Homo sapiens: one gene and its partners. The protein of the gene in region 3 interacts with the protein of the main gene of each other region in a pairwise test. Each region holds a gene or a part of one and is shown on either strand. Other genes may lie near its edges. The genes, in order: KRTAP5-11, EFHC1 and SH3GLB2.

The links.
Region 1: the proteins of SH3GLB2 (region 3) and KRTAP5-11 interact in binary tests that used the Homo sapiens proteins (3 or more experiments, as listed by UniProt).
Region 2: the proteins of SH3GLB2 (region 3) and EFHC1 interact in binary tests that used the Homo sapiens proteins (3 or more experiments, as listed by UniProt).

Annotation. Positions count from the first base shown.
Region 1 is NC_000011.10:71,581,350-71,584,522, forward strand, and holds KRTAP5-11 (keratin-associated protein 5-11), read right to left. Parts: upstream 1,527-3,173; 5' UTR 1,489-1,526; coding exon 1,018-1,488; 3' UTR 506-1,017; downstream 1-505.
Region 2 is NC_000006.12:52,440,739-52,444,390, reverse strand, and holds part of EFHC1 (EF-hand domain-containing protein 1), read right to left. Parts: intron 1-3,652. UniProt on the Homo sapiens protein: Microtubule inner protein (MIP) part of the dynein-decorated doublet microtubules (DMTs) in cilia axoneme, which is required for motile cilia beating.
Region 3 is NC_000009.12:129,018,331-129,021,982, forward strand, and holds part of SH3GLB2 (endophilin-B2), read right to left. Parts: intron 2,890-3,652; coding exon 2,761-2,889; intron 1-2,760.

The DNA of each region.
Region 1 (3,173 bases), on a different chromosome or scaffold from region 3:
ACTGAGCTCCGAGGACACCTTGGGCCATTCTGTAACTTCCTGGTTACCTTTAGTTATGGAAAGCCGTTGACCTCATAATTGTAAAAGGCTAATTGAGTGTTTGAATCAGAGTGCGTTGGAGCTCAGCGGTGCTTCACTCCTCCCTCCTCCGACCTTGCCCTGCCTGGGTCCTTCCAAGGCCCCAGAGGAGAGCGGGAAGCTGGAAGCCATGGGTCTTGTGCAAAGCCCTGCTTGGCTGGTCATCAGGACTCAGGGCCCGCCTGCCCCTCTGCGCCTCTAGGGTGGGCATTGAATACCGAATCCTCCCCAGGCTGAGCCCTCTTCTTCTGCAAGCAGAGAGAGTGAAGATATTTGAGGCCGCGTGGAAGGCAGAAGTGAACTTCGTGGTTCTTTTTGAATGCACCAAGCCTGCTGGCAGGCATTTCCCAGCTTAGCTGACAAATTAGAACACAGAATCAGTCACCACACAGGAAAGGGGTTAGACAGAATTGCACCAAGTGTACAGTTGGTTTACAGACATGAGAGGCTTTATTGCAAGGAAATTCATTCATTTTTTTTTTAAATAGATGGAGACAACAGGAAGGAAGGAGACCTTCTTGCTCACAGGTGGGTCACAGGAGAACAGGCAGCAGCCCAGGAGGACCCAGAATCCCAGTGGTGGTTGAGAAACTGGTTCTTAGTGATCACTCAGGAATGTCGGCCTGGCCTTGTGGGGTCAGACCTAGCATCTCAGTCAGCCCAGGGAGAAGAAGAAGATGGTCCACACCCAAGTGCAGGGAACACCATGGCGTCCAGGGAAGAACACCTCCTGCATCAAGGAAACACATGTTTCCGGAGTGAGGAAGCTGAAGGCAGGGCCTAGAGGAGAGCCGAGCCATGGAAAGAGGTGCATGCATGGATGATGAGCTAGAGCAGGTGCAGGTGCCTCAGGATGATGTGTGGGATGAACTGATTCAGAGAAACCATAAGAAATGCTTTCACCAAAGAGGAGAAACCTGAAGGTCTGGGTCCAGAGCCTCAGATCTTACACTGGCAGCACACGGGGACACAGCAGCTGGACTGGCAGCAGCAGGGCTTGAAGCAGCTAGACTGGCAGCAGCTGGATTGGCAGCAGCAGGGCTTGCAGCAGCTGGACTGGCAGCAGCTGGATTGGCAGCAGCAGGGTTTGGAGCAGCTGGACTGGCAGCAGAATGACCCACAGCCTGAGGAGGAGCAGCAGGGCTTACAGCAGTTGGACTGGGAGCAGCCACAAGAACCACACCCACCCTTGGAGCTCCCACAAGAGCCACAGCCCCCTTTGGAGCCCCCACAGGAGCCACAGCTGGAGCAGGAACAGGCTGGCACACAGCAGCACACAGGCTTGCAGCAGCAAATGGGCACACAGCAGCTGGAGCCACAGCCCCCACAGCCAGAGCCACAGCCCCCACTGCCGGAGCCACAGCCCCCACAGCCAGAGCCACAGCCTCCAGAACAGCCACAGCAGCCCATGATTCTGGCGGATTGAGAGTAGAGCAGGTAGAGGAGCAGGTGAGAGGGAGGTGCAGGTGTGGAGCCCCCTGAGCCTGGGCTCTTTATATACCTGTCCAGAGGTCAGGGAGGACGCAGGGTCCTTTCCTTGTGACTGTTTACACTATTTTTCCAGAGCTCTATTTTTTTCCTCTTTGCTAGTGACTTCCTCCTGGCTCAGTTGAGCATCTACTTTCTTTGTTTTCTAAATTTGTCTTCTTCCCCATTTGTTTTGGCCCCTACAATTAAAACCTCAGCTCCAGGCTGGTCTGGTGCTTCCCGCAAAGTTCCAGGGTGCTGGTCACCCGCTCTCTGCTGACCACATGTGACCAATGGGCAACAGCCTCTGCCCACATGCTCTCATCTTCCCTGTCTATCCCTCCAGATAATATTAATTTTATGTTTTTAGATTTCAAAATTCACCCATGGTCTTTATAGGAAACACAAGTAAAGAAGAAAACAAATTCTTTATTATCATGTATCCTGGAGATGGATTTGGTAGATTTCTGCAAGCATAATATTAATATAAATATTCATGCATATTATATTAAGTAATATTTTACTCATGCCAGTCTCAGTTTTCTGGGTGTGTTAGACCGTTCTTTGCATTGTGTAAAGAAATACTTGAGGCTGGGTAATTTATAAAGGAAAGAGGTTAGAATGGCCATGGTTCTGCAGGCTGCACAAGCATTGCACCCATCTCCGCTCGGCTTCTGGGCAAGCCCTCAGGGAGCTTTTCCTCATGGTGGAAGGTGAAGCAGGAGCAGGCACGCCACATGGTGAGAATGGGAGCAAGGGGTGAGGAGGGGCCACACACTTGTGAACAACCAGATCTGAGTGAACGCACTCATCACCAAGGGGATAGCGCTAAACCATTCATGAGGGATCCGCCCCCATAATTCAAACATCTCCTATCCCGCCCCACCAATGTGAGAGTTGGAGGGGACATCCAAATTGTATCAGTGGAGATCCTTTTTTTTTTTTTTTTTTTCTTTTTTTGAGACAAGGTCTTGCTCTGACACCCAGCCTGGAGTGCAGTGGCATGATCATAGCTCACTGCAGCCTCTAACTCCTGGGCTTAAAGAATTCTCCTTCCTTAGCCTCCTGAGTAGCTGGGACTATAGATGTGTGTCATCATACCCAGCTAATTTTTAAATTTTTTGTAGAGATGGGGTCTTGCCAAGTTGCCCTGGCTGGTCTCAAACTCCTTGTCTGCAGTGATCTTCCTGCCTTGGTCTTCCAAAGTGTTGGGATTACAGGCATAAGCCACCATGCTCAGCCAATTTTTTTTTCCTTTACGGTCCAAATAACAATAATATAATCTCATTTTGGTGTTTGCAGGGAATCTCTTCCTCTACTCAAGCATTTCTGAAAATCCCACAAATCTCTCTGCTGTTGTTTTCTCTCTTCCCCATTTACAGTGTTCACTCCTCTTAGGCTGCTTCTTCCAGTTGCCCACTTTTGTTCCCTGCTCAGTTTTACTCCAGGTGGGAAAGAGAGATTTCTCTATGCCATGGTCTGCATGTGTCCCCCAACATTCATGTGTTGGAAACATCATCCCCAATGCAAGAGTGTTGTGAGGTGGGTCCTAAAGGGAAGTGCTTGTAATGGATTAGTATACTATAAGGACTTGAGGGCAGGCCTCTTGCCCCCCTGGCTCTTAGGAC
Region 2 (3,652 bases), on a different chromosome or scaffold from region 3:
CTGGAAGCATTCCCTTTGAAAACTGGCACAAGACAGGGATGCCCTCTCTCACCACTCCTATTCAACAGAGTGTTGGAAGTTCTGGCCAGGGCAATCAGGCAAGAGAAAGAAATAAAGGGTATTCAATTAGGAAAAGAGGAAGTCAAATTGTTCCTGTTTGCAGATGACATGATTGTATATTTAGAAAACCCTATCCTCTCAGCCCAAAATCTCCTTAAGCTGATAAGCAACTTCAGCAAAGTCTCAGGATACAAAATCAATGTGCGAAAATCACAAGCATTCTTATACACCAATAACAGACAAACAGAGAGCCAAATCATGAGTGAACTCCCATTCACAATTGCTTCAAAGAGAATAAAATGCCTAGGAATCCAACTTACAAGGGACATGAAGGACCTCTTCAAGGAGAACTACAAACCACTGCTCAATGAAATAAAAGAGGACACAAACAAATGGAAGAACATTCCATACTCATGGGTAGGAAGAATCAATATTGTGAAAATGGCCATACTGCACAAGGTAATTTATAGACTCAATGCCATCCCCATCAAGCTACCAATGACTTTCTTCACAGAATTGGAAAAAATTACTTTAAAGTTCATATGGAACCAAAAAAGAGTCTGCATTGCCAAGACAATCCTAAGCCAAAAGAACAAAGCTGGAGGCATCACGCTACCTGACTTCAAACTATAGTACAAGGCTACAGTAACCAAAACAACATGGTACTGGTACCAAAACAGAGATATAGACCAATGGAACAGAACAGAGCCCTCGGAAATAATACCACACATCTACAACCATCTGATCTTTGACAAACCTGAGAAAAACAAGCAATGGGGAAAGGATTCCCTATTTAATAAATGGTGCTGGGAAAACTGGCTAGCCATATGTAGAAAGCTGAAACTGGATCCCTTCCTTACACCTTATACAAAAATTAATTCAAGATGGATTAAAGACTTAAATGTTAGACCTAAAACCATAAACACCCTAGAAGAAAACCTAGGTAATACCATTCAGGACATAGGCATGGGCAAGGACTTCATGACTAAAACACCAAAAGCAATGGCAACAAAAGCCAAAATTGACCAATGGGATGTAATTAAACTAAAGAGCTTCTGCACAGCAAAATAAACTACCATCTGAGTGAACAGGCAACCTACAGAATGGGAGAAAATTTTTACAATCTACCCATCTGACAAAGGGCTAATATCCAGAATCTACAAAGAACTTAAACAAATTTACAAGAAAAAATAAAACAACCCCATCAAAAAGTGGGCGAAGGATATGAACAGACACTTCTCAAAAGAAGACATTTATGCAGCCAACAGATACGTGAAAAAATGCTCATCATCACTGGCCATCAGAGAAATGCAAATCAAAACCACACATCTCATGCCAGTTAGCATGGAGATCATTAAAAAGTCAGGAAACAACAGGTGCTGGAGAGGATGTGGAGAAATAGGAATGCTTTTACACTGTTGGTGGGAATGTAAACTAATTCAACCATTGTGGAAGACAGTGTGGTGATTCCTCAAGGATCCAGAACAAGAAATACCATATGACCCAGCCATCCCATTACTGGGCATATACCCAAAGGATTATAAATCATGCTGCTATAAAGTCACATGCACACATATGTTTATTGCGGCACTATTCACAATAGCAAAGACTTGGAACCAACCCAAATGTCCAACAATGATAGACTGGATTAAGAAAATGTGGCACATATACACCATGGAATACTATGCAGCCATAAAAAATGATGAGCTCATGTCCTTTGTAGGGACATGGATGAAGCTGGAAACCATCATTCTGAGCAAACTATCGCAAGGACAGAAAACCAAACACTGCATATTCTCACTCATAGGTGGGAATTGAACAATGAGAACACTTGGACACAGGGTGGGGAACATCACATACTGGGGCCTGTCATAGGGTGGGGGGTGTGGGGAGGGATACCACTAGGAGATATACCTAATTGAATGACAAATTAATGGGTACAGCACACCAACATGGCACATGTATACATATGCAACAAACCTGCACGTTGTGCGCATGTACCCCATAACTTAAAGTATAATAATAAAATAAATAAATAAATAAACTAGGTATTAAAGGAACACACCTCAAAATAATCAGAGCCATCTATGAAAAACCCACAGCCAACATTATATTGAACAGGGAAAAGCTGGAAGCATTCCTCTTGAAAACTGACACAAGAAAAGGATGCCCTCTTCCACAACTTCTATCCAAGACAATATTGGAAGTCTTGGCCAGAACAATCAGTCAAGAGAAAGAAATGAAGGACATCCAAGTAGGAAGAGAGAAAGTCAAACTATCCCTGTTTGGAGAAAACATGATTCTATATCTAGAAAACTCCAGAGCCTCATCCCAAAAACTCCTTAAGTTAATAAACAACTTCGGCAAAATTTTAGGACACAAAATCAACATACAAAAATCACTAGCACTCCTATACACCAACAACAGCCAAGCTGAGAGTAAAATCAGGAACACAATCCCATTTACAACTGTCACAAAAAGAATAAGATACCTAGGAATACAGCTAACCAGGGAGATGAAAGATCTCTACAATGAGAATTACAAAACACTGCTTAAGGAAATCAGAGATAACACAAGCAAATGAAAAAACATTACATGCTCATGGATACGAAAAATCAATATCTTTACAGTCACCATACTGCCCAAAGCAATGTACAGATTCAATGCTATTCCTATCAAATTGCCAGTGACACTCTTCACAGAACTAGAAAAAAATACTTTAAAATTCAATGGTACCCAAAAAGAGCCTGAATAGTCAAGGCAATTCTAAGCAAAAGAACAAAGCTGGAGGCATCATGTTACCTGCCTTCAAACTATACTACAGGGCTACAGTAACCAAAACAGTACAGTACTGGTACAAAAACAGACACATAGACCAATGGAATAGAATAGGGAGCTCAGAAATAAGGCTACACACCTATAATTATGTGATCTTCAACAAAGTTGACAAAAATAAGCAATGGGGAAAGGTGCTGGGATAACCTGCTAGCCATATGCTAGCCATATATCTTACACCAGATATAAAAATCAACTCAAGATAGATAAAAGACTTAAATGTAAAACCCAAAACTATAAACACCCTGGAAGACAACCAAGGCAACACTATTCTAAACATAGGAATGGGCAAAGATTTCATGACAAAGACACCAAAAGCAATCACAACAAAAGCAAAAATTGACAAATGGTATCTAATTAAACGTAAGAGCTTCCGCAGAGCAAAAGAAAGCATCAACAGAGTAAAAAGACTATCTAAAGAATGGGAAAGAAATATTTGCAAACTATGCATCTGACAAAGGTCCAATATGCACCATCTATAAGAAACTTTAATTTACAAGAAAAAAAGCAAAGAACCCCATTAAAAAGTGGGCAAAGGACATGAACAGACACTTCTCAAAAGAAGACATACACATGGCCAATAACCATATGAAAAAAAAGCTCAACATCACTATCATTAGAGAAATGCAAATCAAAACCACAATGAAATATCATCTCACACCAGTCAGAATGGCTATTATTAAAAAGTAAAAAAATAACAGGTGCTGTCAAGGTTGTGGAGAAAAAGAAATGTTTATACACTGGTGATGAGAGTATA
Region 3 (3,652 bases):
ACTTTGGGAGGCCAAGGCGGGCGGATCACAAGGTCAGGAGTTCAAGACCAGCCTGGCCAACATGGTGAGACCCCGTCTCTACTAAAAACACAAAAAATTAGCTGGGCATGGTGGCGGGTGCCTGTAATCCCAGCGACTTGGAAGGCTGAGGCAAGAGAATTGCTTGAACCCAGGAGGCGGAGGTTGCAGTGAGCCAAGATTGCGCCACTGCACTCCAGCCTAGGTGACAGAGAGAGACTCCGTCTCAAAAAAAAAAAAAAGAGTTAAGTTAAATTTACCTGAGGCCAGGCACAGTGGCTATGCCTGTAATCCCAGCACTTTGGGAGGCCGAGGCGGGTGGATCACGAGGTCAGGAGTTCAAGACCAGCCTGGCCAAGATGGTGAAACCTCATCTCTACTAAAAATACAAAAAATTAGCCGAGCGTGGTGGCAGGCGCCTGTAGTCCAGCTACTCGGGAGGCTGAGGCAGGAGAATGGCATGAACCCGGGAGGAGGAGCTTGCAGTGAGTCGAGATTGTGCCACTGCACTCCAGCCTGGGTGACAGAGTGAGACTCCATCTCAAAAAAAAAAAAAAAATTATGTTAGGTAAAAGCAGCTAAATGCAAGAAACAACATGTCATATGATTCCATTTATATAAAATGTTCAGAAAAAATGAACTTATAGGGACCGAAAACACGTTAGTGGTTGGCTGGCTGGAGGTGAAAATGGGGCTTGACAATAGACATGAAGGACTTTTGGGGTGTGATGGAAATGTTCTTTAAATTAGACTGTGGGCCGGGCACGGTGGCACACTCCTGTAATCCCAGCACTTTGGGAGGCCAAGGTGGGAGGTCACTTCAGCTTAGGAGTTTGAGATCAGCCTGGGCAACATAGCGAGATCCCCATCTCTACAGAAAAATATAAAAATTAGAAGGGCATGGTGGTGGACACCTGTAATCCCAGCTAATCAGGAGGCTGAGGTGGAAGGATGCCTTCAGCCCAAAAGGCAGAGGTTGCAGTGAGCTGAGATTGCACCACTGCAATCCAGCCTGGGGGACAGAGCCAGACCCTGTCTCAAAAAAGGTAACAGAAAATAAAAAATAAATAAGTTTGGCTGGGCGCAGTTGCTCACGCCTGTTATCCCAGCACTTTGGGAGGCTGAGGCGGGTGGATCACCGGAGGTCAGGAGATCGAGACCTGCCTGGATAACATGGTGAAACCCGGTCTCTGCTAAAAATACAAAAATTAGCTGGGAGTGGTGGTGGGCGTGTGCAATCCTAGCTCCTTGGGTAGCTGAGGGAGGACCCGGGATGCTTGAACCCAGGAGGCAGAGGTTGCAGTGAGCTGAGATTGCGCCACCGCACTCCAGCCTGGGTGACAGAGTGAGACTCTGCCTCAAAAAAAAAAAAAAAAAAAAAGTTAGATTGTGGAGATGTTTGTACAACTCTGTAAATTTACTAAAAATCATTGAATTATACACTTAAACACATAATATATAGCTTATACTTGGATAAAATTTTAAAATGAAAAAAAAAAGATGGATATGGTTCTATAAATGCTTCAGTGAAAAGATACCTGTAATATGATGTCAAGTTAAAAAGTCAGGTTCCAGCCGGGTGCGGTGGCTCATGCCCGTAATCCCAGCACTTTGGGAGGCCATGGCGGGCAGATCACTTGAGGTCAGGAGTTGGAAACCAGCCTGGCCAACATGGTAAAACACCGTCTCTACTAAAAATACAAAAAAGTTAGCCAGGTGTGCTGGTGGGCACATGGAATCCCAGCTACTTGGGAGGCTGAGGCAGGAGAATTGCTTGAACCCAGGAGGCGGAGGTTGCAGTGAGCTGAGATTGCGCCACTGCACTCCAGCCCGGACAACAGAGCAAAACTCCATCTCCAAAAAAAAAAAAAAAAAAAAAAAAAAGTCAGGTTCCCAGATAGCACACAATATGATTCCATTAAAAAATACACACAAATAGGCCAGGTGCGGTGGCTCACACCTGTAATCCCAGCACTTTGGGAGGCTGAGGCAGGCGGATCACTTGAGGTCAGGAGTTTGAGAACAGCCTGGTCAACATGGTGAAACCCTGCCTCTACTAAAAACACAAAAATTAGCTGGGTGTGGTGGCGGGCTCCTGTAGTCCCAGCTACTCGGGAGGCTGAGGCAGGAGAATCACTTGAACCTGGGAGGCAGGGGCGTTGCAGTGAGCTGAGATCGCACCACCGCACTCCAGCCTGGGTGATGGAGTGAAACTGTGTCTCAAAAAAAAAAAAATAGGCCGGGCGCGGTGGCTCACGCCTGTAATCCCAGCAGTTTTCGAGGCATAGGCGGGCAGATCACGAGGTCAGGAGATCGAGACCATCCTGGCTAACATGGTGAAACCTCGTCTCTACTAAAAAATACAAAAAAAATTAGCCAGGCGTGGTCACGGGCGCCTGTAGTCCCAGCTACTTGGGAGGCTGAGGCAGGAGAACGGCGGGAACCCAGGAGGTGGAGCTTGCAGTGAGCCGAGATCACGCCACTGCACTCTAGCCTGGGCGACAGAGCGAGACTCCATCTCAAAAAAAAACAAAAACAAAACACACACACACACACAAACCAAAACTGGTTAAGAGAAGATTCCATTTTTTACTCTTTTTTTCTGCGTAGAGTTTTTACATTTAGAATGAATTCAGGTATTATTTGTATAATTATTTTTTTAAGTAAAAAAAAGGAAGGGAGGGAGGGAGAATCAGAGCTAAAGACCATGACCCCTAGTCCCTGGCTGTGAGGCCTGCTCACCATAGGGGGTGGTCGGCCCCAGCTCACTGGCCGCGTCTGCCATGTACTGAGCCAGCAGCTCCCCGTTGGTGACCCTTGAGGGGACCTTCCTGTCCAGCTTCTCATACAGGAACTCCTCCACTCGGGCACCTGTGGGGAGACAGCAGCCAAAGCCACAGGGCTCCTTAGTTCAAGCCCAAAAATGAAACAGAAACAGACCCAGACCCGGCCCTGCCCACAGGTGCACCTGGCCTGCTGACTTCCAGAATACGCTCTTGCTCATGCCCAACCCTGAGACTGTTGTGATTGACCCAGCACTATACAGAGGAGGAAGCCAGGGCCCGTCCACTTCTCCCTTATTAATATGATTACAGACCATAATACATGCTTGCACAATTCTCTGCTCCTGGCACCCAAAAGTTATCTGGCCCCTCAATGAGCCACAGAGCAGATTTACAGGCAGACACACAGCACGACCCGGAGCCACCCTCCTTTCCCCGGAAGTCCTGCAGGTCGCTTCTGCTTGACCTTGGGGGCCTGCCTGGGTGTGCTCCGGGCAGTCCCTTCATCTCTGGGCCTTGCTGACCTCTTGAAAGTGACCAGGTTGGGACGGACACGGTGGCTCCTGCCTATAATCCCAGCACTTTGGGAGGCCAAGGCGGGTGGATCATTTGAGGTCAGGAGTTCAAGACCAGCCTGGCCAACATGGTGAAACCCCTTCTCTACTAAAAATACAAAAATTAGCTGGGCGTGGTGGCATGTGCCTGTAGTCCCAGCTATTCAGGAGGCTGAGGCAGGAGAATCGCTTGAACCCAGGAGGCAAGGGTTGCAGTGAGCCAAGATTGCACCATTGCACTCCAGAATGGGTGACAGAGCAAGACTCCACCTCAAAAAAAAAAAAAAAAAAACCAAC